Linked DNA regions of Homo sapiens: region 2 is linked to region 1. Evidence: fine-mapped expression QTL. A gene starts in region 1. The other region holds a variant in brackets. All regions are shown on one strand. Distances are between the middles of the regions. Region 1 holds the start of SENP7 (SUMO specific peptidase 7). Region 2 overlaps SENP7 (SUMO specific peptidase 7).

Region 1 (2,919 bases):
AAAAAACTATTATCTCCAGAATATACACCAAGAACATCGATAACATTGGTTGCATATGAAAAGGGATTTCAGGTTTTCAACTGCTTCAAGCAGTGTCCCCAGAGATCCATAATCACTCTCCTTTGCAATTAAGGCTGAAAGCAGTTTGAGATGCACTGCCACAGGGCACTCCTAAATAAATTTGGAATTGGTTTTTTTTGTTTTTTTTTTGTTGTTGTTGTTGTTTGATACAGAGTCTCGCTCTGTTGCCCAGGCTGGAGTGCAGTGGTGCGATCTCGGCTCACTGCAAGCTCCGCCTCCCGGGTTCACGCCATTCTCCTGCCTCAGCCTCCTGAGTAGCTGGGACTACAGGCGCCCGCCACCACGCCCGGCTAATTTTTTGCATTTTTTAGTAGAGACGGGGTTTCACAATGTTAGCCAGGATGGTCTCGATCTCCTGACTTTGTGATCCGACCGCCTCGGCCTCCCAAGGTGTTGGCATTACAGGCGTGAGCCACCGCGCCCGGCCAATAAATCTGTAATTGTTAACTGTCTCTGCAGAAACCAACGGTACCATCAGAAACAGAAAAATGAAATGAAATAATTGATTCATTGGGCGTTCGTTTGTGTACTGGACTGTAAGCATATGAGTCCTCGTCCTCTCCTCCTACCATCCATAGGACTTAACACAAGGACTTGAGGACCCCCTAATGGATGAAATGTTTGATAAAAACTTCTCAACTGGGAGGAGCTCTACCTCACGTTTTTATAACTCCACTTTCTTGTTTCCAAGACGTTGTACACAAAACTGAAGATAGTCATTTAAAACAAAGTAACGTCCAAAACAAAAAATATGCTGAAAATAAAAACACAACGAAAGCACGGCTTCAAATCCTTTGTTTGACTTTCCAATCACTTTTGGAAGACGCAGGGTAGGCTGGAAAAGAAAAAGGCTATTAGGCGGGCCTGTTCAGCAGAACGAGACCCGGAGAGGCATTGTATCAAAGAAAAGGAGTCTCCGGTCGCAAGCCCCACCTTTCCTCCCCAGCAGCAGCTACCTGCTGAGGGAAAGAGGAGGGAGAGGGGAAGGGACGCAAAGTCGAGAATCAAAGGAAGAGAGGAAAGTGGGGTCAGGCGCTGAGAAGCCGAAATGAAATTGGAACATTGGTGGAATTACGAGGAAGGCGTGGCAGAGAGTGACAAGCCAACCGGGAAGATCCATGGGCCGATGAGACGCAAGGAGGGTGTTCGCGGGAGGAGGGAAAAAATAAAAGGGGTTTTGAGGTGAAGAGCGCCCGAGGCTTCGATGACAGCTCGGACCGGGTCTTCGACTCCAGGGGCGGGGGCGACCCGGGAGCCTTCCATTGTGCGCGCCCCTTCCTCTCCCCGCCCCCGCCCTCGCCCCCGCGGCTTCGGGCCGCAACCCCAGCTGCCGCCTGCGCCTCCCGTTTCCCCCGGGTAGGAGACAATATGTTCAGCCCTTCTCTGACCCTTTCTCACCGGATGAAGATGGCCGTCGCCCGAGCTTTCTCTTGTCCATCTTCTCCCGCTGCTGAAATTTCAGTTGCAGGCGCTGTCACCTCAGGACCCCTCCGGCTTGGAGAGGGAGGGGGAGGGGAAAGGAAAAAAAAAAAAAAAAAAAAAAAAAAAAAAAAGCCCGCAAAGTGCGAAGCGCGCTTGCGCAAGAGCCGTCGCCTGCCCTTCGACCGGAAATCAGCCGCCCCTCCCACCTTCGACCGGAAATCACTTCCTGGGACTTTTCACTGTGGGCTGCCTCTTCCAGCGTTTTTTTGGTGGCGTTTATTTCATGATCTGAGCCCCTCTGGGGAGGTGAACCACCTGGGTGCTCGATTTTAGCTTTGTTGACTTTGAAGATTAGATTGACAAAAATTAAAAGGGAAAAACAGGAACTCCTCCGGTTCACTGGATCTCGCGAGGTGGCCAAACAACTATGAAAACAAAACGTTAGCGTTTGCAGTATTACATCCCTCACAGCCTCTCTTACATATTTGCCCCCAACGCCTTTCCTCGAACTCAGAAACCAAAAGATTTTAAGATGGCAAAATCACCTAATAATAGCCTAGCTATTAGTTTAGCATTTGCTGTGGAAATATGTCAGCAGACGAGGAAAAATGTCTTAGGATTCCTTTTTAAAATTCGAACTTGTGATTTTTAAAGTTCCTTAAAAGAAAAGCTAGAACTTAATTTTTCAATAACTGAAATGCTGATATGACAGAAAGTGGGTGGCTATAAACTTGGAATTTGTTCAATTAACATTTACCACGATACTTAAGGGACTAATCCAGTCCTCAATGAACTCAAGGTCTGGTACTATTAGCCTGATTATCCCTAATGGTGCATATCTGAATAATTTTTAAATGCACGTGTAAGCTTTCATGACGATTTAATCACAAGTTTAACAAAATTCAGCACAGTGCTCTAAGCAGGGAAAATGTTTCTGGCATGTTCAAAGCCCGAAGGGACTCTGGAAGTAGGGTTTGATTCCCAAGCTGGCCCCTTTATACCCCTAACGCCTATCCCTCCAACCCCCATCTCCCATCCTAACGGAGTCAATAAAGGGATCGGCCCAACTCGTCCACTAGAGCAGTCCCCTTCATCGTGAGTTAAGCCTTCTTAATTATAATGTGGTCAGTCCCCAGGTAGAGGTAAGGCCCCAGGTGTTGTGGGGTGTTGGGCCTGGGGAAGTGTTCTACATGGCAGGAATGACTGCAAAGCAGAAATACTTTAAGTCTTGCTGGGATTGAAGTTTACTGTAAGGATTTCGTTTTATTTGGTTAATTTCTGTTTAACAAAAACATTGCTTTCTGAAAAATAATTGAATTTTCAGTTTCCTCACAAATTAACTTTTTTTTTTTTTTGAGACGGAGTCTCGCTCTGTCGCCCAGGCTGGAGTGCAGTGGCACAATCTCGGCTCGCTGC
Region 2 (2,919 bases), 150 kb before region 1:
AATATAAATCACCAGAAGAAAATGGCATAATCTTTTCATTTCAAAATAAAGACAACTACGTATTTCACTCAAACTACTATAAAAGTTGTCTGAAAATTCAAACTAAGAAAATTTGTAATTTTCATTACAATATTCAGCTTGATAAAACAAATAACAGTCATTAACCAATAGTGTACATTTCATTGTTAATCTATGAGAAGACAGAAATAAATTACCTGTACAGATTCACATGTAATCAATGGTAGTTCTAACAATGCTGATTCAGAAGTACTCTCATTTTCATTAGTTGTCTCACGGTCTTGCTTAGATTGTAACTTAAGAATTTCTGAACTTTTATGTTCAACAGGTCCTTCTTCATCACTGGAAACAACAACTAAAACGGAAAAGAAAAATGTATTTTTGTTTATTTATTTATTTATTTATTTATTTTTTGAGACACAGTCTCCCCATCTCGGCTCACTGCAACCTCCACCTCCCGGGCTCAGGCAATTCTCCTACCTCAGCCTCCCGAGTAGCTGGAATTACAGGCATGCGCCACCATGCCCAGCTAATTTTTGTATTTTTAGTAGAGACAGGGTTTCACCATGTTCGCCAGGCTGGTCTCAAACTCCTGACCTCAGGTGATCCTCCTGCCTTGGCCTCCCAAAGTGCTGGGATTATAGGTGTGGGTCACTGCACCCAGACGAAAAATGTATTTTAAATGTGTAACAATCACATATCAAAAAAAGAACTTTTGGCCGGGAGCAGTGGCTCACTCCTGTAATCCCAGCACTTTGGGAGGCTGAGGTGGGTAGATTCCCTGAGGTCAGGAGTTCAAGATCAGCCAGGCCAACATGGTGAAACCCTGTCTCTAGCAAAAATACAAAAATTAGCCGGGCATGGTGGTACATGCCTATAATCCCAGCTACTTGGGAGGCTGATTAAGGAGATTACTTGAGCCCAGGAGGGGGAGGTTGCAGTGAGCCAAGATCGCACCACTGCACTCTAGCCTGGCCGACAGAGAGAGACTCTGTCTCAAAAAAAAAAAAAAAAAAAAAAAGAACTTTCTAATTAATGCAATTTATTTTTAATAATCCTGTTAAACTGAATCATCTAAATTTATTCAATTTAGAAACAGGCCTATCAGTTGTTATCTGATTTATAGTAGTTACAGACAATGACTCTATATCAGCGCAATTATTCAGCAGTTACCTGTACCCTTACCTTCTAAAGAATAAAGATGTTTAAAAATGGATAAAGCCATGAGGAGGCCTTAGTAACAAATTCTAGTTCTAACAGTGTATTGTGCCATCACTCTAAATTGTACTTTTAAGTCCTGTTACATGAATTGCTTCAAGGAATGGGAAATTAATAACTAGGGGAAGATGTGGGCGAGTATTCACTGGAGATCCTTTAAAACCTTTGGAATTTCTTTGTACCATGTGATGGCATCAACTACTCAGAAGCTGATTAAATGAAAATTAATGATAATAATCAGATAGCACTTAAACTCTGCATAATTCATCAACCAAATGACAGTAATGATGGTCTTTAAATAATCTATTTTAAAACTATTG[A/C]GATGACAGTGTACTTACTAATCTAAGAAAAAAATTACTTCTGTTTTCAAGTCCTCCATTAGTTTACCTAAATCGATATTTTAAAACTCATGAAGGAGACCCCAAACCCCAAGCCCTTTTTTCCTAAAGTTAATATATTCCACAATGATGTCATAAACAGCTTATGGCCTTAGCCAAATTTGTTCAAGAAGAATAAAAAAATAACTAAGTAAAGCAGAGGAAATTAAGTAACTTTATAATCCTCCTGTCACTTACTTGGTTCAGCTGAGATCAGTGATTGGTTCCCTTCATTATGTCCTCTTAGAATAGGCTTTTCTATGGTATTCAACTCATTCTCATCCTTCTCAACCAGGGAAGAAATCCCCACAATATCAATGGAATTAGAGTTCTCAACGGTTTCAGTGGTTGAACCGGCAGAGGCACTTTTGGTGGCATTACTCAAAGTCAACTCCTGACTGTTAAGTGAGGATAGTTTAGTAAAATCACTTTTTGTAGGTTTAGTTGTAATTTCTTCAGGCAGTTTTGGATCCTGATGATAGTTTTCACTTGGCTTTTCAAACTCAGTGGATATTGTTGAGTCATCTTCTTGTTTTTTCTAAACATAAACACATAGAAAAAAATAGCATTTTTCAAATTTGGCTTGCTTAAACCATTTTTAAATTCCTAAAAAAAAGTAAAAATATTATATCACTTCTATAACTACATGGATAGAAAACTAAACAATTATACTACATTATACTTGCCAATGTCTCCCAAATTTAAAGATACAGGATTTGGTCTGTCCAATCTGATGCCTGATAATTTTTTAAAGGGTGAAATTGGGAGATTTCCATCATTACAAATGCTTTGTCAGACGGTCTCCCATGATCTAAGTCAACTTTAGAATGAGAAGATGTATTTACATATTTTTATTTTGCAAAAGTAATAATGCCAATGTGACTACTTTGGTAAAACTACTTTGGTAAAAAAATTTAAAAATCAACAATATAACAACATTAAAAATTATGAAAATCAACCACTGCCTTCAATATCTCATTTACTATATAAATCTGAATCATGTTTATAATTACAACCCAAAAACATTACAAGGTCCTGAAATGATTTATGGATCAAAGAAATTGAAAAGCTGTCTTACTGTTTTATTGCTACTTATATACTAAGTCTTTGAAAATAGAAAATGTATGTATTTAATATGATAATTCTTTACTTAGAATAAATTCCCTAAACTCTAGATAAACAGAAGCTTAAAGAATTTGATAAGTAAATTGCTACTGATAAAATAAATCTAATAATAATTTTACAGAGCAAGCAAAAAAAAATGACTAGACAGTATGAATAGTATTTGGCTGAAATAAAGAAAAAG

The links. PIP is the estimated chance that this variant, and not a neighbour inherited with it, causes the effect. A credible set is the group of variants that fine-mapping cannot tell apart.
Region 2: its variant is the best candidate, but not a certain one, in a credible set for the expression of SENP7 in whole blood (INTERVAL, PIP 0.86).

What each region holds. Positions count from the first base shown.
Region 1 is chr3:101,511,612-101,514,530 of GRCh38, forward strand. SENP7 (SUMO specific peptidase 7) reads right to left here and starts at 1,601. Exons shown (of 24, transcript NM_020654.5): 1 at 1,480-1,601. The coding sequence starts at 1,519.
Region 2 is chr3:101,364,619-101,367,537 of GRCh38, forward strand. It overlaps SENP7 (SUMO specific peptidase 7), which reads right to left. Exons shown (of 24, transcript NM_020654.5): 9 at 1,812-2,151; 10 at 216-373. Among named protein-coding and RNA genes, the nearest start is that of IMPG2, 46 kb to the left of the region's middle. The variant A/C (reference allele first, on the strand shown) is at 1,557.